Homo sapiens: one gene and its partners. The protein of the gene in region 2 purifies or fractionates together with the protein of the main gene of each other region. This does not show direct contact. Each region holds a gene or a part of one and is shown on either strand. Other genes may lie near its edges.

What was found.
Region 1: the proteins of TSHR (region 2) and POTEF purify together in Homo sapiens (affinity purification with mass spectrometry; 3 studies listed by BioGRID and IntAct, with this or other methods). This does not show direct contact.
Region 3: the proteins of TSHR (region 2) and ZNG1A purify together in Homo sapiens (affinity purification with mass spectrometry; 2 studies listed by BioGRID and IntAct, with this or other methods). This does not show direct contact.
Region 4: the proteins of TSHR (region 2) and BORA purify together in Homo sapiens (affinity purification with mass spectrometry; 3 studies listed by BioGRID and IntAct, with this or other methods). This does not show direct contact.

Annotation. Positions count from the first base shown.
Region 1 is NC_000002.12:130,084,213-130,091,241, forward strand, and holds part of POTEF (POTE ankyrin domain family member F), read right to left. Parts: intron 3,926-7,029; coding exon 3,855-3,925; intron 2,176-3,854; coding exon 2,131-2,175; intron 1,784-2,130; coding exon 1,602-1,783; intron 1-1,601.
Region 2 is NC_000014.9:81,084,600-81,091,628, reverse strand, and holds part of TSHR (thyrotropin receptor isoform 1 precursor), read right to left. Parts: exon of another isoform or gene 3,714-7,029; coding exon of another isoform or gene 3,676-3,713; coding exon 3,601-3,675; exon of another isoform or gene 561-3,600; coding exon 486-560; exon of another isoform or gene 1-485. UniProt on the Homo sapiens protein: Receptor for the thyroid-stimulating hormone (TSH) or thyrotropin. Also acts as a receptor for the heterodimeric glycoprotein hormone (GPHA2:GPHB5) or thyrostimulin. The activity of this receptor is mediated by G proteins which activate adenylate cyclase.
Region 3 is NC_000009.12:162,035-169,063, forward strand, and holds part of ZNG1A (zinc-regulated GTPase metalloprotein activator 1A), read right to left. Parts: intron 2,415-7,029; exon of another isoform or gene 2,369-2,414; intron 2,004-2,368; coding exon 1,944-2,003; intron 436-1,943; coding exon 398-435; intron 1-397. UniProt on the Homo sapiens protein: Zinc chaperone that directly transfers zinc cofactor to target metalloproteins, thereby activating them.
Region 4 is NC_000013.11:72,737,906-72,744,934, forward strand, and holds part of BORA (protein aurora borealis), read left to right. Parts: intron 1-56; coding exon 57-138; intron 139-5,631; coding exon 5,632-5,697; intron 5,698-6,599; coding exon 6,600-6,656; intron 6,657-7,029. UniProt on the Homo sapiens protein: Required for the activation of AURKA at the onset of mitosis.

The DNA of each region.
Region 1 (7,029 bases), on a different chromosome or scaffold from region 2:
TATATCCTTTTCTCAAAGGGAGGATAATGTCACACATGCAGGGCACTTTTACAAATAAAAGTCACTGCATTAGCAGCACCTTCCTTTTAGCACAAGGGTCAGCAAATAAGCACCTGTGGGCCAAATCCAGCCCACTGCCCGTTTTTGTAAGTCAAGTATCTTGGAACACAGCCATGCTTATTCACTTTACAGTCCATAGTGTCAGTTAGCTGGGTGTGATGTTGCACACCCGTGGTCTCAGCTAGTAGAGACTGAGGTCAGAGGATCACTAGAGCCCAGAAAGTCGAGGCTGCAGTCAGCCATGATCACACAACTGCACTCCAGCCTGGGAAACAGAGTGAGACCCTGTCTCAAGAAAATCAATATATGTAGTCCACAAAGCCTAAAATATTTACTAACTAGCTCTTTGCAGAAAAAGCTGGCCAACTCCTGGTTTAGTAGATCAAAGATTCTTTGATGTATTTTAATAAAAGTTTTACCAAATATACTGAAATGTTTATATTAAATATAGATCCCCATGTACAATCGCTTGGCAATATTCAGATTGAGGGTCCAATATTTCAGCACTCAGGCACTGACAACAAAAATTTAGTAACTAGCAATCTTGTTGCTAACAAGGTACAGTGTCAATGTAGCATGTAGCTTCCATTTGCAACACAGCAGATATTACAAGAAATTTAACAAGAACTCTTAAGATGTGTCATCAAACTAAACGCTTTAAATACATTTTAATTGTGAAATAATCAGTATACCCTACATCTAACCTCATTTTTTAAAAATGGTTGCATAATACATTATTTTGGGGATATGGAAATTGAGCTATTTCCTATTGATAAGGAATTAGACTAGCTCCAAATTTTTTACATAATACTATAATAAATGTCCTTATACATAAGTATACATATAACATATCTATACAAATATCCTTTACATGTATTATATATGCTTACTGTTATATATGTGTGTGTGAATATGCTACTCAATTAATGTTCAAAATGTATTTACCAACAGTATATGAAATGTCTTTTTCAATGAAACCATTTCCCCTGCAGCAACACGGATGGAGCTGGAGGCCATTATCCTAAGAAAACTCATGCAGGAACAGAAAATCAAATGCCACATATTCTTACTCATTAGTGGGAACTAAACATGAGAACTCATGGACACAAAGAGGAGAATAACATACACTGGGGCCTACTTGAGGGAGGAGCATGGCAGGAGGGAGACGACCAAAAAACTACCTTTCGAGTATTTTGTTTACTATGTGGCTGGTGAAATAATCTGTACCCCAAGCCTCCATGATACAGTTTACCTATATAATAAACCTGCACACGTACCCCGAAGCTAAAATAAAAGTTCACTGAAAAGAGAAGAAAATGTCTTTTCCCTCACATTTGCCAATACTGGTTATTTTTCAAATAAATTAATGACTGGAAAAAAAACGGTAACTGATTGTTTGCTGATTTTCATTTTTCTGATTAACAGGCAAGGCTCAATATCCTAATAAAAGTATAAAATTTGTTCATCATGAATATTAGCTCAAATTAGGATTAGTTTGGCAGCACAAAGTTACCTCCTGTTCAATGTTGCCATAGGCTTACCTGTGATACTCTTCATTCTCAGTGTCAGGAAATTGCTGGCTTTCAGGTGTTCTGCTCTTCCTTGGAGGAATTAATCCATCATCACCATTGCCAGCAGTGGCACCATTAGTCAGGTTTTCTGGGAATCCGACATGAGTACTTCTGTGCTTCTTCATTTCTTCGATAGCCATAAAATTTTCTAGCTGGAAAATACAGAGAATAAGAAATTATCTACTTTAGGCACATTATCTATTGATAATCAGACTAAAACCAAGAAAGATAAAATAATTGGTCTAAAGCTCCTAAAGTGGCATTACCTAGCATTTTATGGCACCATTCGGGATTATTCCATAATAATGAAAGAATAGCTCTAGGGTTTGCACCTCTTCAAAATTCAATGTACAGAATTCTGAGTTAACTATTTAATTTTTCACTGATGATTTATGCTACTTACATGATAGGATCATGTATGCCTACATTTACTACACTTTGTTAAACAACATAATGTAAAAATCTAATTCAACACAAACGTTTGAATATAAAGGTATACCTCTCTATCACCATCCTTATTTATTTCTGGTTCTTGAGATCTTTTCTGCAGATGTAAAAACAGAAGGTTAATTTGCTTGTTGTATTTCTGTGACATTTCCTCTTTTGGAGTGCATGTTTTTAAAATAATTTTATTCTGAAGTAATCAAGTATGGACAATAAAAATTAGAAAGTAATTAAAATTAAACTGTTAAAATAAATAATAATTAAAATTAAGAATTAACTTTTTAATCTATGTTTAGCTACTGCCACATCACTGGCTTCTAACATGTGAAAAATAATTCACCTTAGACAAAGGGAGAAGAAAAACATGAACCAGCAAACTTAACTTTCTCACTATTTGTTTGGACTAAATTTAATTTGTTATGTGTTAAATCTACCAAAAATGAATCAGCAGATGATTTGTAGTGTTCCAAAATCTTCCTCACTTGAAAAGAGTTTACCTCATGAAACCCTAACTAGTGAGCACCTACAGTGCACTGAAGTGCTTTTTTAAAAGATTCCTAACTGGATTGTAGGCACCCTTTAAACTATTAGGAGCCGAAATCAACACCAAACAGAAAGAAATGCAAATTCTCACATTTTAATTGAAATTATATACTGTCATATGATAGTGTTATGTATCCAGATTATCTGCGTAAGTCCAGTTCTAATATATTCTAATGTGTACTAATGACAGCAGATAAAATTTTTTAATCTCTACTGATTTTCTGCAACTGAAATAAATTAGAATGTTATTGTGTTTGTGCACTAACACCAAAGGTCCCATTCTGCAAGATATGGTTCTTGTAATAGGCAGTTGGGTTGCTTTTATGACCTGGTTCCCTCCCTGAACAGAAACACTGAGGTCAACGAGAGACCACAAGGCAGGATATGTCCTTAACCTTGGTATCAGTGACTGACAATATAAAACTGTGGATTTTCAATCACAGGCCATGATTACTCTTTAACCATGAATCCAGCTCAGGGAATCAGTGTTACATTGTTCATAATTCCTATTGCTTAATAATATGATTCAATCATTGATGTTACTTTCTTTATCATGTTAGGGTGTTGTAAAAATAAAAGAACAAACAAAGTTCTGAAATTTGTTTTTGCCTCTATTCCAAAAGGAGAGATTAGCTATAAGCTAATCAAGAAGGCAGATAAGAATATTTTAAAATAAGAGTATTTTAAATTTTATAGTGGGTTATGTTGAAGTTAAATATCAAATATTAAATTAGAATCTATTGATTCTTCTGTTAATAAGGTTGCTGATTTTATTACAATAAATTTTAAGAATCTATTAAAATTTTTTTTTTTTTTTTTTTCACATGGAGTCTCGCTCTGTCACCCAGGCTGGAGTGTAGTGGTGGATGTCGGCTCACTGCAAGCTCCCTCTCCTGGGTTCATGCCATTCTCCTGCCTCAGCCTCCCGAGTAGCTGGGACTACAGGCACCCACCACCACGCCCAGCTAAGTTTTTGTATTTTTACTAGAGACGGGGTTTCACCATGTTAGCCAGGATGGTCTCGATCTCCAGACCTCGTGATCCACCTGCCTCAGCCTCTCAAAGTGCTGGGATTACAGGCGTGAGCCACCTTGCCTGGCCAAAAGATTCTTAAAAAAACAATCTACTGATTCTCAAAGCCTAGTCTGAAAGGTAATTTCATTTGGACTATCTAATATTATTAAGGCAAAAAAAACACAACATTAAACAAAAGTTTAAATTTAAAAGTTTCCATGCCTCTGGCTGGCCATTTTCACTGCCTTTAAGCCTTTGTGACTCTTCCTCTGATGTCAGCTTTAAGTCTTGTTCTGTTGAAAAATCCATACATTCAGTTAAAATCAACCACTTAAAACAGTTAAAAACTATTGCCTTTTAAAAACAGATTTGAGACATTTCATTTTATTTCATAAATTGAGTGTTTCATCTTTTGTGAAATTGTCATTTAAGAAATAATTCTCAAAAACTTCAAAAACCCACTTGGGGAGATAGCAGATGTCACCAGATTGAAGACAAACAAACATGTCAAAAATTCCCTCACAAATTCATCCACCCAACATCCATGAACAAAACCACCAGAAACACAGCTTTAAAATACAGTAGAAACATATAAGGTGACACAGTGTACTGTTCTCCACTTCCTAATAGTACCTTATAAATGATTTCCAAAATCACTGCTGACACCTTTATTAGTGTACAACATCTTCCTAATATCTAAAATGTTTCTCTCCACTATTCTGACAAATTTATTTTCTTTTTTTCTTTTTTCTTTTTTTTTTTTTATGAGCTAGAGTCTTCCTCTGTCACCAGGCTGGAATGCAGTGGTGTGATCAGCTCACTGCAACCTCCGCGACCCTGGTTCAAGTGATTCTCCTGCTTCAGTCTCCTGAGTAACTGTGATTACAGGCAAGCACCACCACACCCAGCTGATTTTTGTATTTTTAGTAGAGATGGGGTTTCACCATTGGACAGGATGGTCTCGATCTCCTGACCTCGTGATTCCCTCTGAAAGTGCTGGGATTACAGGTGTGAGCCACCACACCTGGCCTTATTTTCATCTTTTGAAACAATGCTATATGAAGTCTTCCTTGATTCTGCATGTCTTTCCCCAAATAAACAGGTACCTCCTTCCTTGAGGCTGCCTTAGTACTTTACTGATTTTTCTACTGCATCTTGACCACCTAAACTGTACATTATTCCTCCACGTCTGTCCCCTCTGCTCCAAGACTGCAGGGGAGAGTCTTGCACATCATCTTTGTAAAAACAGTCTTTGTTTTACTCAGAAATATTTTATTGAGTCCTGCTAAATACATGCTAGGCATTAGGGTTTAAAAAGAATTAAAATAAAGCATGTCAGAGATGGCTTTTCTAGAACACATGCCCAAGCAGAGACTTAAATATTGAGACTAGCCAGATTAAAAGGTGTAGAGGGCAGGAAAGGGTGACGGCATGCCACGCAGCAGCAAGAGCGGGAGCGACTCCTGAAAGAGTGAAAGTATTTGCCTACAATAGAAGGATGAGTGAGTAGGGCACTGCCAGCAGTTCAGTAATGCCAGAGACAGGGCACACAGGGAAAAGGGCTAAAGATGGAGAGTGGGGCAGAAGTCAGATTATGAAAGCATTATGTGTAATTTTAAGATGCTTGAACATTAATGTTCAAAAGTGGTCCCGGGTCCTATCTGCATTTAGATATAGATCATTTCAATGCCAAAACCAATATTCCTAGTGAACAATTATTCATTAAGACAAGGTGACAGATAGCTCATGTGGACACAGCTGAGATGATACAATGTAGCAAATTCTAAACAATTCTCATGAACACTTGGAAAGTCAGTTCTATAATAAAGTCATACAAATTATAATAAATCAGTAAATATTTGGTTTCGGAAGATGCTTTGTAAAGTTATAATGCATATGAATACAATTAACAGTCGTGAATTCAGAGCTGTGAAAATAAATCAAAGAAACCACATTGTGTTTGAGTCAGCAATCTTTAGATTTCTATCCAGTCTTCCCATCCAGTCCATAAATTCTAAGTATAATCCTGGTACTCACTCTCAAGTTTACGTTAAATACTATCCCATTACAAAAAAACACTCTTTCTCTTACTTCTTTTCATTATGTCCTGCTAAAAAGATTCTGATTGGCTGCAGGCGGCAAGAGGGAAAAACAAAAAGCACATTTTGCAGAAAATGATTATTTAGAAGTCAGAACTATGACATGAAGCCAAGCAGGGCACTCTAGGACCGAATTTGCTGTGCTGCCTTCATACGCTCCTTGCTCTTTCTTTTCTGGCAGCTGTGACTCACACAGGTCATGGAGAGTATCATTCCCTAAGAGGAACAACTCCGATATTCATCTTTATCTATTAAGTTCATCTGTCCCAATTCTGTGTTCTGTGGATGCTGACTTTCTGTCACGGACGATGATGCACATGGACATTTATTACTGACTTTCAGATTCTTGGATCTTTGACAAGTCTTATTACTTAGAGTCAAACTAGTAGGATGCGAGTTATAAATGCTGATTATCCAATTACCTACTCAAAATACCCTACACGAATATTCCATTAAACATGCATCGAAAAACATTAGTCATTCCTGCTGACCTGCTGCTCTTTGCTCTCCTGTATTCACCAGAAAATTTCCTACTCCTTCCTCATGTCCAGGTTAAATACTAGTGTGCAATCTGGAAACCTGTACATCATCTGAGATTTCTCTCTGTCCCCCAAGCCTTTCTCATTCAATTATCACTAAATCATATTGACTATACCTCTCTTCTGCCTCTGTTTTATATTCCCACTGCCACTGGGAACACAAACATTTACAAAATGACTTCTATTTAAAAGAAAACTGCCAACTATTAATGTTATTTCTTACAGGAAAAAAAATTAAGCAAAACAAGTGAAAAAGGCATAACGAAGGCCAACATAGTAAAATGAGTAACTGAGATTTCTAACGTTATTTATTTTACCATGGACGGGTGAAAACCTTGTAATACATTGATGCTACTCCAAGGATGTGTGACATGGAAACTATAGCTGACTACTGCAAAAGCTTCCTTTGTCTCCTGGTTTCTTTGCATGATTATCTCCCATCAATCCCAGGAAACTATAGGCCACAGGCCAAATCCAATCTGCATTATGGTTTTGTAAATAAAGTTTTATAGGAGCTCAGTCATGCCTGTTTGCTTACATATAATCATGGTGGCTTTCACACTACAACAGCAGACAACAGCACGGTTAAGTAGATATGACAGAGACCACATAGTCCAAAATATTTCCCACCTGGTCCTTTAAAGAAAAAGCTTGCTAACCCATTTTACACCATAACCAGAATGCCTTAATACTCAAATTTAATCTTGTGGCTCCCCTGCTCAAATTTCTCCAATGAGCCCCCTCCAGCACACATTGTTG
Region 2 (7,029 bases):
CTATGAAAAATAAGGTATCATAGTTATCATCAAATATTCCTTCTATTCAACCATTCCCATTGGCAAAGAAACATTGCATAATTTCTTCCATTTAAAAACAAAAACACACAAACAAAATCTTTTCTCCTGACTCAATATCTTGCAATTACTGAGCTATTTTCTGCTCCTTTTAATAGTAAAACCTCTCAAAAGAGTTAATTATGGTAACTCTTTCTAATTCTGTCTACCCAAGTCTCTCTTGAGCCCACTCCAACCAGCACTCCACTGGAACTGTTCTTGGCAGAGTCACCAACAAACCACATTGCTAAAGCCAGTGGTTATTTCTCAGTCCTTGCCTTACTTCATGCCAGTGTAGTCACACCTGATCATTGCTTACTCCTTGAAACAATTGCTTTACTTATCTTCAACCTACCCTCATGACTGTATTCTAGTTCTTGTCAGTGACAAACAAAATATTGTCAAACATGGCATGTGTGCATACTTACAGTATAAAGAATATATCAGTGGAATAAACTTTGGTCAGGTCAGGGAACATTTTAAGTCCAGTGTTGAAAATGCCACTAAATTAATGAAAAAAAGAGAAAAAAAAGCATAGAATTTAGGTAAAAAAATCAACACATAGGAAGGAGAATAATGTAATAGCTGAAAGCATGGGTTCTGAAGACAACCTGTAGTCAAACTCCCAACACCTTCCCTAAATATCTGAGTAACTATGGGCAAGTTCTGATGGTTGGATGAGATGATATTCCCTCAAGGCATAATAATTTAATCCAGTCCACTGGTGTCAATACATCTGCTCGGCTTAGAATGCTCTGGAGATTGTTTTAACCAAGTGGGTTTACTAGAAATATAAATTCAGTTTTCGTGTGTGTGTGTGTGTGATTTTCTCGTTTAATTGGAAAAAATTATGTGTTTGTTAGTGAAGGGCTAAGAAGAAGATGGGACAGGAAGATATGATGACTTTAAGCCAGCTTCCTCTTTCAAGCTCTACATGATATTATGCTGTTATTTTGCCAAGAATATCTTTCCTACAGCAGTGACCTGAGAGTACCATTATAACAGTACCATTTAAAAAAATATGTCCAGAGAGCCGGGCACAGGGGCTCACGCCTATAATCCTAACACTTTGGGAGGCCAAGGCAGGTGGATCACTTGAGTCCAGGAATTCAAGACTAGCCTAACATGGCGAAACCCTGTCTCTACTAAAAATACAAAAATTAGCTGCATGTGTTGGCATGCGCCTGTAATCCCAGCTACTTGGGAGGCTGAGGCATGAGAATCACTTGAACCTGGGAGGTGGAGGTTGCAGTGAGCCGAGATCATGCCACTGCACTCCAGCCTGGGTGACAGAGGGCGACTCTGTCTCAAAAAAAGACAGTGTCCAGAAAAGGAAGGAAACCAATCAAAGACAAAGTCTTTACCTTCTGTAGTTTATATCATCTACAGAAAAATGTTAAGATTAAAAGACATGCATAAAACACCATGAATACAAGAATTCTCAGGCTCCTGATGCCTCCCAGATTTAGTTGTTTTAACATTTGTTGCAGCTACTTGAATGTAATTAGAATTTTTTTTTTTTTGAGAATTTGGCATAGCATAGAGTGAGATCTAGACACTACTCAGTAAAGCTCTAGAGAAGGTCTTCTGGTAGAAAAACTATATCCATTGATACTCCTTCTGAGGCAAATTCAGACTTGACTCCTTCTAGAGAAGAAGGCATAGGATTTGAAGAGGCAGCAGGAGCCAGAGGTCTCAAAATCAGCAAATGGGAGGGACATTCCAGATAACAAAGGAGAGAGGTGAGATTCCATAAGGTATATTTGAAATACAGTAAACGAACTAGTTCAATTGCAATAGGTGCTCATGAAGAACAGTAGGAGGGAAAAAGGTCCAAGAGTCAAGTGGGGTCCATATACTTGGATCAAGATCTTTCTATTCTTCAAAAATCTCAAACAAGTCCCTTAAAACCATGCTGTGGGTCTTCTTTCTGATGTCTTCTCTAATTACCTGAACCCCCAAACACTGTATATGTCTCTCCTTCGTCACTTTCCATTATTCTTCTGTAGGAGAGGCACTTTTCAATTTCATACACATCTCCTCAACTAGATTACAGGCAAGGACAATGTCTTAGAAACCTGTATGTTCCCCACAGAGCATATAGTGGGGGATCATCACATCAAAGGGTTATTGTATTATTTGAAACTCAGAGTCCATAAGAAGAGTGATTGTCTTGTCCCATAAGCTTTCATGGCTTTCCAGACATCCTTTCATCTTCATATCCCATCAGTGTCTTCCATTCCCCTGGCATCTCTCACACCCACCTCTTCAATATACAACTATTGGCCAGGCACAGTGGCTCATGCCTGTAGTCCCAGCACTTTGGGAGGCTGAGGCGGGTGGATCACCTGAGGTCAGGAGTTCGACACCAGCCTGGCCAACATGGTGAAACCCCATCTCTACTAAAAATACAAAAATTAGCTGGGCATGGTGGTGCACACCTGTAATCCCAGCTACTCGGGAGGCTGAGGCAGGAGAATCGCTTGAATGCAGGAAGTGGCGGTTGCAGTGAGCCAAGATCACACCACTGCACTCCAGCCTGGGGCAACAGAGCAAGACTCTATCTCAAAAAAAAAAAAAAAAAAGCAACTATTTTTAGTTCCCCAAAGAAGCTGCGTGGTTCCCTACATTTGTGTCTTTATCATGCTATTCCATCCAGCTAAATTTCTTTTCTATCTCCCCATTCTTGTTCAAGATACCCTCTATTCATCCTTAAGGGCTTATCTCATAAAATATCTATGATAACATAAGTTTGTTTTGAAGGTCTGGATGAAGATGAACTGAAATGTTAATAGTGCTTATTTTGGGGTTTGGGATTAAGTTTTTTTTAACAATTTTCTTCTTCATACTCTTTGTTTTCTAATCTTTATAATGCATGCAAGTAGGAAAAAGGACTCTTCCACCTGGTATCCAGGGGGCCTGAGGTCATACAGACACATCCACTGAACACATTTGTACTGAGCGCCTACTCTGTACTAGGCAGTAAAGATTCAACAGAGAAAAAAAATGTTGTGGTCCCTGGATTCATGGAGCTTATGGTTAGCTCATAAGGTGTTTTCAAAGCAAAGCAGTGAGTGCTGGACATTTGAGTGCTGGAGTGGGAGGTTGAAACTGTTGTCCCTTCTGTTTTCCCTCCACTCCCCATGGAAGTGTATTTTACTCTTTGTGGGTTTTTTTTCCTGTGTAACAGCCACTCTAATAATATTGTTGTGATACCCATTTTCAAACAAAATTGACCAACTGGCTCTCAGAATTTTGTTTTGTTTTGTTCTGAAATACTACATTTAAGGACCACATATACATGATAGCATTTTCTCCCTCCTGTTTCTTGGAGCAGGTCTCTGGTTCCAGCATTATGTGCTGACTTTTGAATAGGTTTTAAAAATGTGGATCATTTCACCCGATACCTTGCCCCCGACCCAGGCTATACACCATTAAAATGAACCTGGACCACATCATCTAGGGAGATTCCTGGGAGACAACAGCATTAAATCTGACCCCCTCCCCCCAGAAAAGTAGGATGGGAGAGGATTTAATACTTACAGGAACTTTAGGAGGGGGAGCTCTTTGAGGGCATCAGGGTCTATGTAAGTTAAGTTCCTGGTATTCCGAATTTCTCTGTATAAGTTACAAGGAACACAGTCACTATAATGCATCCGTATCTGTTCTTATCAAAGACAAAACAACATAAATCAGTTTTAACAAACGTTCATGAGAAAAATATGCATTTACGCCACAGGGTACCCCAGGGGCTGTAGCTGCCAGGGGTCCCATCAATGACAAACTACTCCTGTCTCCTCACGGGGACCCAATGGCTGCTCAGCTCTTTTGCATTGTTGGCTTGGTTTCTGTCCACTTTAATTTATGGGCTACATTGTTCTTAATTGTAGTATCAGAATTTTTTTTCTTTTACATTTAGAGAAAAAAGAAAAATCCCTCCAATGATTTGGTGAGGAGTTGAAGACAAATATCTTTATTATTTATAAGTATTCTGGCCAAGACAATGAGTGTTGGAGTGGGAGGATGAGGGAATTTTATGATGAACGACAGCACAGCAAGATGGACAGTAAGGCTCTGTCATTGCCATACCAGATGTACAGAAGTGGTAAGTCTTCACAGTTCACTTGGGTTTATTTTGTCATGTCAGCAATCGAAGACACTTCTGCATGTATAGTGCAATATCGTGTGTCAGTAACTTACATACTTAGGTTTATATAAATGCTGATCAAGAATGCACAGTTAGCATTAGAGAAATAAGTAACTGCTAGAAATGAACTCTCACTGGTTAAATTAAACATATTCAACATAGGTTGATTGGCTAAAAGAGTTTAAGGCATTCCCTATGCTTACATGAAAAGTATATAAGAACCCAGTAAACCTTTAGCATTTCTCCTTAGGAGTGGCACCTAAAAGAACCAGCATCTAGTCATTGGTGGTACCAGTCAGAAAGCTTAGAATGTGACCTCTGTAATTTTTAAAGTTTTATTGAAAAAGAATTTACATTCCATAAACTTCAAACATTGTATGTAGGCATACAGTTCAATGATTTTTAGTAACATTACATGATTTTGAAACCATCATCACAGGTTAGAACATTTCTGTCAATGACAAAAGTAACCATAGGCCCATCTGCAGTTAGTCTCCACTTGCTCCTTTATGCCTAGAAACCACTGATCAGTTTTCTTTCTTTATAAATTTGCCTTATCTGGACATTTCATATAAATGGAATCATATAACAGGCAGTCTTTTGTGTCTGCCTTCTTTCATTTAGCATAATGTCTGTGAGGTTCATCCATGTTGTAACATGAATTAGTAGTTCACTCCTTTTTATTTCTGAATAGCCCAGATGGACTCGAAATAGAGTCTTGGCTCTGCCACTTCTGATTATATGACCTTGGACAAGTTTCTTGGCCTCTTTGAGCCATAGTTTTCCTGTCTGTAAAATAGGAACAATTAACAACACCTCTTTTGTGGGGCTTTTGTGAGGATTAAATAATATTCATGAGGGATTTTATGTTTGGCCTCCACATAGTTAGGGCTCTAAAATAATGCTTTTATTATTGTTATTTTCATAAGTGCAATGAAAGCTAGAAGAGACATCAGGGACTTGGGACTGGAGATGTTGTGACATTCTTGCAAAATTAGAAAAAACTCTCTGGTTTTTTCAACTAGGCATTTCAACTAAGGACACTGAATATGAAACAGACCTTGGAAAAGAGAGGATGGAGTTAACTCTGAGAACAGAAATCACCTACCTCTCTCCTCCCTAAACACACAGCTTACTGTCTATAATAATATACCCTTACTGGTCCATTGTCCTCATTAACATAACTACAATTCCAGGAGACTCTTGCCCAGGCAAATTGCTTTATTGTTCATTACAGAGAGTTTTTGAAACAAAGAACCATCAATGCTTCAACAGAAAGCATCAACAGTTTATACCCCAAGATCTTAGAACTCCTCACTTCCAAATCCTCACTATGCTAATCCTAAACTATTATGTCATGATTTTTACCTAAACAAGACCCTGCATGGAAAGATCCTCTTTATACAATCTTTCATTTTTTTGTCCTGGCTTTAAAATGCAAAGCCCATATCCTTGGAATTCCCTCTGTCTTGGGCAAAGTGTGACAGTTGGCCACCCTACTCCAAAATCTCATAATTTTCCCACCTTGCCCCTCTAGAGACTATCAATCTCTGTTGAGGTGGTTCTCTCTTTCCAGGGTGAGCAATAAACTCCTTGCCAGAGCTTTCCATTGGGGGAGGAGGGTTTGAACTACTGCCAGAGACAAACAGATGTAAACTAGATGCAGGAGTTTGGAAATTGAGCAGGGTTTGCAGTCTGGAAAATTGCTCCACAAGAGACTGTCGTTGAACGAGTAGTCCTGAGTGAGTGGTCTAAGAGAACGTCAGAGTGAAAGAAAATGCAGCCCACCTGGGTCAGCTGAAAAGGTAGAGAATAAAAGGGAAATGAAATGCAGCTGCTAGTAACAGTTGATTAAATGAGGCTGGCAACTTACATGGAGGCTGGAAGAGGAGAAATGTGGGAGAGGCAGCAAGGAGAGAGAAGGAAACATGAAGGAGGAGAAGATTTCTAGAAGGAAATGTAAGAGCTACAAAGGAGAAAGATGAATGAGAGACCCCACAAGAAAACAGCAGGGAAAAGAAGCTGCTTTCTGAGGTAAGGCAACAGCTTACCACTTGCTCACAAGTGACTTTTGAAAAGTATCTCCTGAAGCAGAGAAGGGGTGGAGTGGTCGTAGACTGCCAGTAGTTTAGCTAAATGGTGAGAGATAACAGCTGGGTGTGGTGGCGCATGCCTGTAAGCACTTTGGGAGGCCGAGACAGGTGGGAGGCCGAGGCAGGTGGATCAGTTGAGGTCAGGAGTTCAAGACCAGCCTGGGCAACGTGGTGAAACCCTGTTTTTACTAAAAATGCAAAAATTAGCCGGGTGTGGTGGCTTATGTCTGTAATTCCAGCTATTTGGGAGGCCAAGACATGAGAATCGCTTGAACGCAGGAGGCAGAGGTTGCAGTGAGCTGAGATTGTGCCACTGCACTCCATCCTGGGCGAAAAAGCAAGACTCTGTCTCAATCAATCAATCAATCATTAAATAGAGAGGTAACATAAGAAGCAAATGCAACTAGTAAAACCTATTCAAAGATAGGAAGAAAGGAAGGGCAGAAGTGAGTACAAAAGAACATCTAATCAGAGAAGGGTGAAAGAGGCGTTCAAATTTGAATGCCTTCAAGCATGCCTCTGAGGGTGAATTTGAATCACACCATTTTGAGTTAAGCAATTATGGCCTGAGTGTGCAGGAGGCTAGCTATGCTGCCAGAAAGCTGGAGACATTGGAAGAAAGAAAAGCTGTTTGTAATACAGCACACTAGGAATGGAGATGCCCTCCAGAGCTGAAGATGGCTGTGCCTCCAGCAACCTGAGGCCCTGAGTGACTGCCTGAAGGTGGCTGCT
Region 3 (7,029 bases), on a different chromosome or scaffold from region 2:
CATTTCCAGTGTGTGTTTAATAGTAATTTAACAAGAAAAATAAGATCTCAGATGCTTTATCAAGCTCAGCTTCTTCTATGGAACAGAAAAACTTACCAATATTGGGGTTGAATCCTTGTGAAGAGTTATACATACCAAACTCTACCCTAACCCCATATGCTTATTACAAATTATAATTCCAAATTTTATCACCAAATCAAACTCAGAGTAATAGAAAAGAAATATTTAACACAAACTAATAATTAAAACACAAATTTCACCTATTGTTCAGGATATCTTTTTGAGAAAGGTTTTTGTTAAAGAAAATTTCAGATACAAACATAAAGAAAATTAAACAATCAATCCCCATATTCCCAGCTCTCAATAATGACCCACTCATAGCAATCTTTCAACTTACTTTTAATCCATATTTTGAATCCACAATAGTTATGATACCTACAAAGGAAAAAACATTTTAATCACTTTTTAAAAAGAATGTTTATTAATATTTGTACAACCATACTTCAAAATGAAAATTAAAACTAACCTATTTCAGTTCACAAATACTACTCAATAAAACAATGTACTGTTTTTTTCTCTTGCCAGTGCTGCCATTTAATTAAATTCCAGTAATAAGTCAATGCATTTCCTGAGTGGCTAGCACTATTTTAAGGCACTAGAAACGATATAAAACAAATAAAAATTTTAAATTAAATAAATAAGAAAATAAGATTTCCTTGGCACTGAAAAAGCTTACAATCCAAAATATAAGTCAAATTTCATAACATAGTCAAATGTGATAAGTACATAAGACAGGTTATTTCTAGTTTATTTTCACATAATCAAAATCAAGACTTTTCTTAAGATTTAAATTATTGCCTAAAGAATGAGACATCTTAAGGTATCATTCCTAACATCTCTCACCAAATCCAAATCCAACTCATAAATGTTCTACATAACATATGCCTAAGTTTCCAAACTACCAATTCATTTTGCAATCTCTGAATATATGCTGATAACAAAAGAATGAGTTTAATTATGCCTAAGGAATTCAACCAGTTACCCGCCACATATATTAGAGCTCAATGATGGGGCCCAGCTTAATAATTCTTAAATTTCTTAATGATTATTACTTTTGAAAAAGTAAGAAAATTTCGACTGAGAAAGGGAGAAAACATAGTCGCTTAACTAAGAAAGTTTCTAATATATTTTAAATGAAGGCATATCATTGCCCAAAAGTGTTCAGGTAAATAAAGTAAGACAGGAGTGTTTAATTCTTATCTTCAAGAGAAAATAAAAGCAAAAATATGATCCTCATATTGCCTGGAGGATTAAAATAAAAGGCTCTAACATTATATTAAGGGCATAAATCAAACAACAGAGGATACAGAAAACCTACAAAGCATTTTTTTTTTTAAAGAAAACCTTAGTGGAAGCACTAAATTGGAAGTTGAGTGACATCGAGTTCCACCACTGTCTGGGGTTTTTTAATCTATATGAACAAAGATTTCATCATTAAACTAAAGTGTGAAAAGAACAACAATGCAAGGAATTAAAGTTATAATATGAATGAACAACAACAATAAGCTTAACCATAAAGATTTTACTAAAAAACAAAAGAGGCAGGGTGTGGTGGCTCACGCCTGTAATCCCAGCACTTTGGGAGGCCGAGGCTGGCGGATCACCTGAAGTCAGGGGTTCAAGACCAGTCAGGCCAACATGGCGAAACCCCGTCTCTACTAAAAATCCAAAAATTAGCCAGGTACGATGGTGCACGCCTGTAGTCCCAGCTACTCGGGAGGCTGAGGCAAGAGAATCACTTGAACCCAGGAGGTAAAGGTTGCAGTGAGCCGAGATCATGCCACTGCACTCCATGCACTCCAGTCTGGGCAACAAAGTGAGACTCTGTCTCAGAAAAAAAAAAAAAAACAAGAAAGATAAAAGAAAACTGTTTTTTAACTTACCATCAAGATAAATATCACTCCCTAATTCAGCATCAACCCAAAACATAGAAGCCACTGCACCTGAAAATATATAATATTCATCAAATAAAAATATTTCTTCACACTGAGAAACATGATTCTATCCATGTTTTAATTTGCCCTGATAAAATTAACAGGTAAACACATATATCTTCTTATGGAAATTATAGTGATAGAAGCTTTAACTATTTATAGCAAAAGGGAATTATAGTGATAGAACCTTTTACTATTTATACCCATTCCATTTCCATCTCTCTTGTTATTTCCTTTAAAAAAGACCAATTCTAACCACATATAAACAAAACATCATTCTTCTACCGATGCCATAATAATTTAATTAACAGATATTATCAAACAATTTGAGCAGTATGGCTTTGTGCACATCAGACTTATTTTTATTTTCTCACCTCTTTAATATGATAATCATTCAATCATAAATAGTGAATTATCACTCTAAAGGAAAAGGAAAACAAAACATAGATAATTCCAAAATCACTTGCCCAAAAAAAATTTACTTGTAATCTGTGTAGAACTAGAAGTAAAATTATATACTCTATGGCATTACTAATTATTCCTCACACTATTTATTTAGTACTGTATAAAACCTGGGTCTTAGGAAAAATTTTTCCTAAATAATAAATTAAAACTTGCTTTTGACAGAAATTGGTTCAGTACCAAACCACATACCCTGATTAGTATGCCACAACGCAAGAAAAAGAAAACTGACAGCAAGGAAAGTATTTGATTTTTGAAAGCATCACAGGCCCAGTTAGTGACAGGGCTGTCTAAAAGAATGAGTGTAGGAGAAAAACAAGGATAATCAAACTCATTCCAGCGTCTAAAGCTGTCCACCTACTCTGCCAAGATGTGGTCCCCCAAGCATCACTCGGTGTCAACAATGAAATACCTGTCAGCTGTTTACAGTGATTACTCATGCAAGATATAGCAAGGGCCACAAGATCTAATGGTTTCCTGATACCTATTGATTTTTTTCCCAAAAACTTAATAGTTTTCCAATTTGACTCAAATAGGATTTGTGAGTAACAGGGGCTGAATCAATGTCTGTTCTTTTCAAGGAAATTACTTTACCATGACAATTATTTAACTTAGAACTGGAGCGTGTCAGTCTCCAAAACGGGAAACAACTGAATTGCCAATAAGAATTTTGTTCACTTTCTTGGCTAAAACATGATTTTAATTAATGAGGGGGGAAATTAAATCTACTGTATCACTACTCCAAACAATAAGTCATTTAAAAAAGCATGAATTTTTTCACTCAGTAAAATATCTAACATACATAAATCATTTTGTAATTTTTAAAAATTCATTGATTTTTATTCCAATAAATAGTTTACAAATCCTACTGTTAATATTTGCCTCTTAAGTTGAAATGTAAGAGTATATTAATGCTTTATTCTAAAACTGGTATTTATCTTTGATATAATACTTGCCAGACTACATGAGAAAGATCTATTTAAAATTTGGATGTAGGTATTTAGGGGGAGTAAAGATGAATGAACAAAATTGATCAGTGGCTCTCAAATCAGGGTGCTTTTCTCCCCAGGGAATATTTGGCAATGTCTGAAGATGTTTTTGGTTGTCTTAACTAGGGGAATGCTACTGGCATCTAGTGGGTAGAAGCCAGGGATGTTGTTAAATATCCTACTCTGCACAGGGCAACCCCCTCACAACAAATAATTATCCAACCCAAAATGTTATTTGTGCTGACACTGAGAAAACCTGAACTACATTTTAGAATCTCCCTTCTTCAAAATCTAATAAAACAAAAAATAAAAACAAAAAATAAAACAAAAAGGCCAACATTTTATTAGCAGCAACCAAATATAAAAGGGCCTGCCATAAATTTTGAAGACTGATAGTCAAAATAAGAAACAAAGTTATATGTGATTGATGGTCATTCCCAACTCTACCCCTACCTCCAATAAGAGGTTGTAGGGAAATAGTTTACAAAATCCTAAACACTTACCAGAAATACACTCCAAAATGACAAAAAGTAGAGCCGAGGAATGAATAAGCAACACAAGGAAAAGTCAACAAAAAAATTTCAAGAGTGAGTTTTAACCATCTCTTTGCTTTGGGAAGGAGAAGGTCAGGTCACATTCTAGGGCTCAGAACAAAGAGAAATGAGAGCTCTGAGGTCGAATGATGTCCCCATACAAGGCAAAGGAATTTTATTCATAAGCAGTTGGGCAGACCCAAGAGTGAAATACTTGGTACTTCAAGAGAGCAGAGCCTAAAAGCCACATTGCCCCATTTGGCTCTCTGAATCACCACTTTTCCCTTCTCTTTCCCTCCACTCCAACAATATACAGCTTTCAAACTAGGGCTCAGGAGAAAAACAAACTTGGGTAAGGAGAGTGGAGTATTAAAAATATTTCCCATCAGCACCACATAGAAGTTCTCCCACATCAAGAAGAAACATGTATGCATATGTATTACAGCCTGACAAAAAGAAACACGCACATACAGGGAATAAAAAGCAAGAAAGAACACAAAATGAAGAAATGAATAGGGCACACAAGTGGCAAAGAACCCATTCTGGAAGGATACATAACCCAATAAAAACTAAAGAAAATTCTCAACAACTTCATCATAATGAAGAACTTGAAAACAATACAACCTTATAATAAACAAGCTCAAAAGCAAGAAGAAGCAGAATAAGATGAAAATGCGTTTGTAGCGCTAAAGAAACTTAGAGCCTATATAACACAATGACTTAACCAATTAATTCATTTAAAATATCAAAAACAGGACAGACACTGGAGAAAACAGAATTATTGACAAAAAGAAAGGCTTCAGATGATCACAGTAAATGCAAAGGTAAAAGACAAATCAAAGCAATTAGAATACATACGAACAACAAAAGAAAATTCAGTATTAAAAAAACTGGTGTCATGAAGTAGAGGATCTAATAATTTGACCAAAAAAAAGTATTCATGGTAATAAACAAGGAAAATGTTCTTAGAAGAACTAAGGGCATACTATAATTTAGGGAAAAATGATTATAAGTGACACTTAGATATACCTTGTTTATATTACTGAATTTCAAAAATAAAGAAGAAAACTCTCAGGCATTTTAGATTAAAAAAAAAAATTGCCTTCAAGGAGGTAGGGAGAAAAATCAGACTTTTCTACAGTAACACTAGATGTCCCAAAATAATAAAACAGGGACCACAAAGTTCTAATGAAAGTGTTCCCAAACAAGTTATTTTTCAGGAACGAAAGCAATAGACAGACATTCTCAAGCATTAAAGAAAACAGCAAGCATTGAAACTCAGAGACTATAATACTCACAAATTCTTCCTAATAAAAAGAGAAAACATTGGACAAAGAAATCCAGCCAATCAAACACTAGGAGATTATGGAACAACATTTACAAAGTTGAGGGGGAATAAAGTGTGACTGATAAATTTTATACCTAGCCAAGTAATCCTTCAAGTAATATAAAAACAAAAGACAAATATTTTGAATCAATGAAGTGTATAAGAACCCAAAGAATGCATGCAGTACCTGTAACTTGAAAAGACTGCCTGACAATGAAATTCAATCAGGAGATGGACTAACTCGGGAATGGAGAAGCAACAGTACTGGTAATAAGCACCAAAACTATTAAAACATAGAACTAAAAGAATTATGACAGAACCATGACAACATAAAGAATATGATCAACATGAAACTAGGCCAATTAATATCCTACAATGGCCTGTAAGTGTTCAAGTGAAAGGAACAGTCACCTGTTTCTCACTTTAAATCAAGAGCTAGAAATGATTATGCTTAGTGAGGAAGTTATGTTGAAAGCCAAGATACGCCAAAAGCTAGGTCTCTTGAGCCAGTTAGCTAAGTTGTGAATGCAAAGGAAAAGTTCTTGAAGGAAATTAAAAGTGCTACTCCAGTAAACACACAAATGATAATAAAACAGCCTTATTGCTGATATGAAGTGGTCTGGATAGATGATCAAACAAGCCACAATGTTCCCTTAAGCCAAAGCCTAATTCAGAGCAACCCTAACTCTCTTCAGTTCTATGAAGGCTGAGAGAGGTGAGGAAGCTAGAGAAGAAAAGTTGGAAGGTAGCAGAGGTTGGTTCACAAGATTTAAAGAAAGAAGCCATCTCCATAACATAAAAGTGCAAGGGAAAGCAGCAAATGCTGATATAGAAGCTGTAGTAAACTACCTAGAAGATGTAGCTAACATCATTCATGAAAGTAGCTACACTAAGCAACAGACTTATTTTTTATTTATTTATTTATTTATTTTGAGATGGAGTCTCGCTCTGTCACCCAGGCTGGAGTGCAATGTGCAATCTCAGCTCACTGCCACCTCCGTCTCCCGGGTTCAAGCCATTCTCCTACCTCAGCCTCCCAAGTAACTGGGATTACAGGCTCCCACCACCAAGCCAGGCTAATTTTTGGTATTTTTAGCTGAGATGGGGTTTCACTATGTTGGCCAGGCTGGTCTTGAACTCCTGAACTCGTGAACTGCCCACCTCGGCCTCCCAAAGTGCTGAGATTACAGGCATGAGCCACCGAGCCCGGCCAGCAACAGATTTTTAATGGAGATGAAATGGCCTCCTTTTGGAAGAAGATGCCATTTAGGACTTTCATAGCTATAGAGAAGTCAATGCCTGGCTTCAAAGATTCAAAGGACAGGCTGACTCTCTTGTTAGAGGCTAAAGCAGCTGGTGACTTCAAGTTGAAGCCAATAATCATTTACTATCCTAAAAATTCTAGGGCCATTAAGAATTATGCTAAATCTCCTCTGCCTGTTTTCTATAAATAATAAAGCCTAGATGACAGCACATCTGTTTACAGCACGGTTTAGTTTAAGCCCACCATTGAGATCTACTGCTTAGAAAAGAAAAGATTCCTTCAAAATATTATTGCTCATTGACAACGCACCTGATCACCCAAGAGCTGTGATGGAGATGTACAAGATTAATGTTGTTTTCATGCCTGCTAACACAACATCCATTCTGCAGCCCACTGATCAAGGAGTAACTTTGACTTTTAAGTCTTATTTAAGAAATATATTTCATAAGGCTATAGCTAC
Region 4 (7,029 bases), on a different chromosome or scaffold from region 2:
CCGTCTCACATTTTGGGTGGAATTTATGCCTAATTGTATGACTTTAATTTTCCTAGTTTTTCACTAAAGATGTCATCGTACCCTCTCCTTGGACTGATCATGAAGGGAAACAGCTTTCACAATGTCATTCCAGTAAATGTGAGTGTACTAAAAATGATATGAATAAAAATCAAAAAAGTCGGTGAATATAAAGCAACATATCATGAAGTGCCAGTATATCTGCTTTGTAAGAAGCTTGCTTTAAAATTCTGGATAACATAGAATTTAACTCCTTTTAGGGTTAGAATTAAAAATTTGACTAAAATTTATTGAATTGTTTTTTAGCTGTTATACTCTGAATTTAACTTTTTCTTCATGACTATTGTGAATGTCAGTTATAATGATGGTTATAGAGGATCCATAGATGAAGAAATAGTTGGTATTGAATATAGAGATGAGTTGTTAATGACTTTAGCAGTATTTTGAAGGTTAATATTTTAGATAAAACCGTAAATTGTGTTGCCTTTTGCTAATTTGCTGATTTCTTATAAAGGTAAAGAAAGGATGAAGACTTAATATGACCTCTGGGACAGTGTATTATTGCTGAGTATCTGCAAAATTAATAAGGAAATTAAAGGGCAAGCCAGTAAGCTAACAATTATCTTTCTACCTCCAGGCAATGGTTGTCATATATTTGTTCTCACTGCTCTTTGGGTTGTGAGGCAGTATTCAGGAATCACTTGTATATATGCATCCCTCATCACAGTGGAATTACACTGTCTATTGTAGTATACCTTAATTATGCTCTCAGTATAAGAGGGAATGTTTGTTCCATTCTTTATCAAAAAACACAACATAATAATACAACAATAATAGGTAAGCTGGGTTAGTACTTTCTCTATGCCAGGACAGTGCTAAGTGCTTTCAGTAATTTCTTATAACTCATATGAAGTAGGTGTAATTATTGGCCCCATTTTATAGGTAAGAAAACCTAGTTTTAGAAAGATGAGAGCATTTGTCCAGGGTTACAGAGATGATAAAAGTGGGAAAACCTGAATTCAAAATTCTCAAATCAGATGCTGTATTCTTAGCCATTATGAATTAGTGGTAGCACGCAATAGTAGATGGAAATCTGGATTGTAAAACCTCCTACTTTTATAAACCAGAGAGGTGACCTTGATCAAATTATTCTCTTTGTACCTCAGTCTTTTATTTGTGAAATAAAAGGATTGAACTAGAGTTGTCCATTTACATCCCCCCAGCTCTAAAATTGTGTGTCCAAGGTGGCATTCTCATAGATACTAGTTTTTCACCCCCAGATTCTTTACTGTTGGATTTTTTCAACAGATGAATCAACCTTCTTAAGTGATTTTTTAAATAACATTTTTGTATTCCAAGTATCCTGTTTTAGTTCAAGTGATGCAGGATCAAGAAGATGCTTAAAAACACTTTAGACTCTTTGAAATCTAATCAAGCCCACGATAACAGTGCAGTGGTTAATAGGATAGGCTCCAGAGCTGTGCTGTTTACTGTGTTGTTGGGAGACAATTCTCCATAGGCCTCACATTTCTGCACACCTTTCATGAAGTGGCATGGACAAGTTCTGTTCCAAACTATCTTTTCTAGGGTGTTTGTCTTGGAAGGTAGAGATAGTGTGTCCCACCAGAGCAGAGGGTAAGTTTGTTTTGCTGTCCAGTATAGTAAAGATGATGTCTCCCTCTGGAGCAGATTTGTTTGCAGTCTCTCTTAAAAGAATGGGATTTCCTAAGCTTGGGGTTCCTTAGCTATGGTGAAAACCCATTGTGTGTCCACCAGCCACCTGGGTATTTTAATTTAGAATCTTTTAAGATAGAGAGCACTCCTCCCATGATTAGGAGAGACACAAGATGGAAATAAAAATTTTATTACTTACAAGTCCTAGGGGTACACAGCATACCTGAACACCACACAGGGAGGTCAGGAAGAGAGAGAAAGGGACCCATGGGCCAACGCCTTTATTGGGTCCAGGGCATTATCCAAACAGAGTTTTAGTTGGTGGGTTTAAAGCAAGCAGGCATGCATTGAGGAGGTCACACAGTGACTGAGAGATAGTCACTGTGGCATGTCTGTGTAGTCCATGTGCGGTATGAGGGTTGGGGGGTCAGTCAGGTAGGCCATATGTAGATGGCCCATAGGGAGGTGGTTACCAGGAGGAATTTATATAAGGCAGATATCTGGATCAACCACATTGAGGTATAGAACTGGAAACTGTGTCGGGTGAATGAGCCCTGCTTTTTGTATGAGAAAGTCCAGCTTGTATGCAGAATTATAAGAATTCACTGCACTGGACTGTTTCATGTCATCTTCTTGGCACTTGGGAGCAAAGGGAATTAATAGGAATGTTAAGTTCATGCTGCCTGCTGTGCTGAAAATAATAAAGTCCTTTATCTCTGCCCCCAGAAGCCTCATGTCTTTAGCCAGCACCAATGGAACTTTGACATGTTCACCTGTTAGTTGCCAAGTTGGGTAGAATCTTAGACCCTTTATAGTTCTTGACAGTTGTGGCCACGTGTGACTATTTAAATTTAAAGTTAAATTTAAAAATGGAGTTCCCCATTCACAATATTCACATTTCAGGTGCTCAATAGCCATGTGGATATCGAGTAGTATAGATAGAGAACATTCCCATCATCACAGAAAATGTTCTATTGGATGCTACTTTAGGGCCAAGGTTGGCAGCCCTTAAGTGTAAAGGATTCAATAATAAATACTTAAGCCTTTACTGACCACACAACCTCTGTTGGAACCACTCCACTCTACTGCTGTACCACAAAAGTAGCCGCTGACAATATGTAAATGAATGTGAGTGTGTACCAGTAAAACTGTATTTAAAAAAATAGGTGAAAGGCCAGATTTGCACCATGAACAATAGTTTGCTGACCCTTACTCTAGTGTAATATTATCTAGGTTTGAATTGTACCCAGTAAAGCTCACTAGCTGTGTGACTTTAGATGAGTTACTTAGCTTTTCTGTGCCTCAGTTTCCTTATCTATAAAATGATGGTTATTGTGGTACCTCTAAGATAATGTACCTAGCACATGGTGTTTGGTTATCTACCTAAAGATTAACAAATAAAATGGTGAATGAGGGGAAAAGTGGTTTTGTTTATACATGTTAGCTTGTGCTGGTAGCATTTACTATTATTAATATTTATGCAGCAAGGTGCTTCAGTGCATATCCTCATGTGTTTTTATTTATGGACTTGAGTGAGAATTTCCCTGGGATATATACGCAGGTAGAGGATTTCTGAGTTATAGAATATATCGTTACCTAATCTGACTACACAGTATTAGAGTGCTCTCTAGAATATCTGCACAGTCTGCACAGCCCCAGCAGTCCCTAGGGTTCCTGTGTCCCAGCATCCCTGCCTGCCCTTGGCATTATCCAGCTTTTACATCTTTGCCTTTCCTATAGGTTATTTGACATTCTAAATGATTGTTTCAGTTTTCTTTTTGTCTTCATAGACTAATGACCTTTTACATTTCATAGAAAATGTCTATTTGTAATTCATTGATATGTTTCAATTGGAGTTGCTAACCTTTTTTTTCCTGTTAATTTCTAAGATACCTTACATATTGTGGTTATATTGGTCTTAAACATTTCAAATGTTATCTCCCATTCTGTCATATGTATGTTACTCTTTGTTCTTGATATCCTGGGTTGCATAGAAATTTTTATTTTGGTGCAGTCAAATCCATCGATTTTTTTTTTTCCTCATTTGATTGTGGTCTTAAACTTGTCTAAGCCCTTCTAGGGGAAGCAACCAAAACACTTGGAATAGAGTTGAAAAGTGATGTGATAATGTTGCTGTAGGTGTCTTTCTGGTCTGAGGAAGGCAAGGAAGGCATGCTGGCAGAAGATAAAATTTAAGCTGAGATTTGAGTTAGACTCTTGGAATGCAGGGGAGAAAAGGCAGGGAGGAGAGAGCATAAGATAATACCTAGAGATGAGAGAGATACCTGTTTCTTGTTTGTTTGTTTTAGGTACTCAAATAATATTTAATTAGATGGCAACCATGCTAGAGAAATAGACATGGTTTTGAAAGGCTTTGTAAGCCATTGAGGTGTTTGGATTTTATCCTAAAGACTATTGCAGGGTTTTAGGCAGAGAGAGTATTGATTACATCTGCCTTATAGAAGGTCACTCTGCATGCAGTGACAAAGTCATCTGCATCCAAAATTTTCTTTATTTACCCGTTTTGATAGTATTTCACAGGGAAATTTAATTTATTCAGCAACCCACTTACCCATTTTAAAATTTAGAATTGTTAGGTTACTACACTCTATTTTGTCATTTTATTTTAGAATTCCTGAGTTGTTTCTGGTTTTGGGGGGAGGGGGGGTTTGTTTGGTCCCCTTGCTTTTTCTTCCTTTTATCTTACTTATATTAGTCTTTTTGAGATGGTTTTGGTTTTTGAGTTTTTTTAATCTGGTGATTTTTCAATTTATAAAACTTTAGAGTTAAAATAATTTGCACCCATATTTTTAACTCTTCTTGTGAAAGAAACTATATGGTTTTATTGATCAAATTTCAGGTTTTGTCAAAATAATCTGGCATTTTAATCTGTTGAGGACATTGAGGGTAGCTAAAAGGTATCCCTAACCTTTTAAGGTTGACGTCATGAAGAGTAATCATCATTTCCTTAAAAAAAAAACATTACTTTGGGATTCATCAGTCCTACTACTGGGTATTTATCCAAAGGAACCAAAATTACTATTTCAAAGAGATACCTGCACTCTCATATTTATTGCTGCATCGTTAATCACAACAGCCAAGATATGGAGTCAACCTAAGTGTCCATCAACAGATGAATGGACTTTTTAAAATGTGATATATATATATATACACACACACACACACACACACACACACACACACACACACACACAAAATGGAATACTATTCAGCCTTAAAAAAGAGGAAATTTTGTCATTTGTGACAACATATATGAATCTAGAGGACATTATGCTAAGTGAAAAAAGCCAGCCACAGAAAGACAAATACTGAATGATTTCACTTATATGTAGAATCTAAAAAAGTCAGACTCTTAGAAGTAGAGAATAGAGTGGTGGTTACCAGACGGTAGGGAGGAGGGGTGGTGGGGGAGATGTTGGTCAAAGGGTACAAAGTTTCAGTTAGACAGGAGGAATAAGTTCTGGTGATCTGTTGCACAGCCAGGTAACTATAGCTGATAATGAGGTATCATATAGTTCAAAATTGCTGAAAGTGGATTTTAAATGTTCCCACCACAAAGAAAAGTATTTGAGGCAATGGATATGTTAATTAGCTTGATTTGCTCTTGTCATAGTGTATACATATATTGAAACATCACATTGTACCCCATAAATGTATACAATTATTTAAAGAAAAATGTAAAAAAAATATTGCTTGGTGACTCCTTATTTGCTGTGGTAATCCTTTAGTTTTATCCTTGTATTCCCTCAAAGGTAAAAAAATAATAGAAACATACCAAAATATATACTTATATATGCAGATTTTTTTTAATGTTGCAAAATAAGTTTCCACTTTCTTAATTTTTTACTTTGGAAAAAGTAATGCTAAAGCAAATGAAGAGTATAAAACATAGGATTTTTCACTTAAAATGTCTTACAGGCACTAACATAAATAGTGACTCTCCAGTTGGAAAAAAGCTGACCATTCATTCTGAGAAAAGCGATGGTGAGTATGAACACAATTTGAAAAGAAGGATGTTCCATATTAAGCTACATTGAATTCTAAACCCAGTTCAGGTAGTAACACTTTACTCTGGAATTGAAATTGTTTCCTTTTTTTTTTTTTAATTTATTTTTGTTTTTTTGAGACAGGGTCACACTCTGTCACCCAGGCTGGAGTGCAGTGGCACAATCAAGAGCTCATTGCAACCTTGACTTCCCGTTGACTTCCCGAGCTCCAGTGATCCTCCCACCGCAGCCTCCTCAGTAGCTAGGACTACAGGCACCCGCCACCACACCTGGCTAATTTTTGTATTTTTTTGTAGAGACAGCATTTCGCCATGTTGCCCAGGCTGGTCTCGAACTCCTGGGCTCAAGCGATCTGCCCACTTTGGCCCCCCAAAGTGCTAGGATTACAGGCATGAGCCACCAAGCCTGGCCTGTTTGGATTTTTTCAATGAGCTACATAATAACCATATGAGAGCTGACCTTTAAAAACAAGTATAGTAGAACAGATGCATCCAGCCATGTTTTAGAAATAGCACTAGTGTTTTGTTTTCTTGTTCAAAGCATGTGAATTGATTTCTGGTCTTGGAAAGCATTCTTTTGAAAATTGGTTAATGTGAGAAATCTCCCCCCAGATATAGGCTGGCTTCCTTTTCAAGTGCCAGTACCAGAGCCAGGAGTTAACTTTTACTATTAACACGTTTACACCAGTTGCGGAGAGTGTGGGAAACCACTTCTAGAAAGGTGGCAGGGTATGTGATAGAATGCAGAAATGAATAATTCCATTTGGCTGGAACATCACGGGGAGATGATTGACTGGGCAGCACATGCTGAATTGTATAGTGTATACTTTCATTGATTTATCCCATGTTTGAATTTGTTTATTTATTTGCTTGTTTCCAGCTGCTTGTCAGACATTGCTGTCTCTTCCTGTGGATTTTAATTTAGAAAATATATTAGGTAAATACTGTATTTGTTTAAACTTTTAATAACTTGAACCAAAGGTTTTGTTTGGCTGGCTTTTTGTAAATGGTAACATGGGAAATATGTGGCAGTGCCTCTTTCTAAAGAAGTGGGGAAACTGCCCTGAAATTTCTCTTTTTCTTGAACATGGTTTGAACTAGCCTTATTATCATAGTGAACTTTATTACTATAGACAGAAACTATAAACATTTTATTGATATTATACTAACAATGTAGCACTTAAAAACTAAGGAATAATTTAAGATGTAAAACATCAAATATGCAATTAAACTTTGCCCTCTTTTTGGGAAAAAATTCAAACATAGTGCATGCTGGCTTCTTAAAAGTTGAGTAACAGAAGTATAATTGC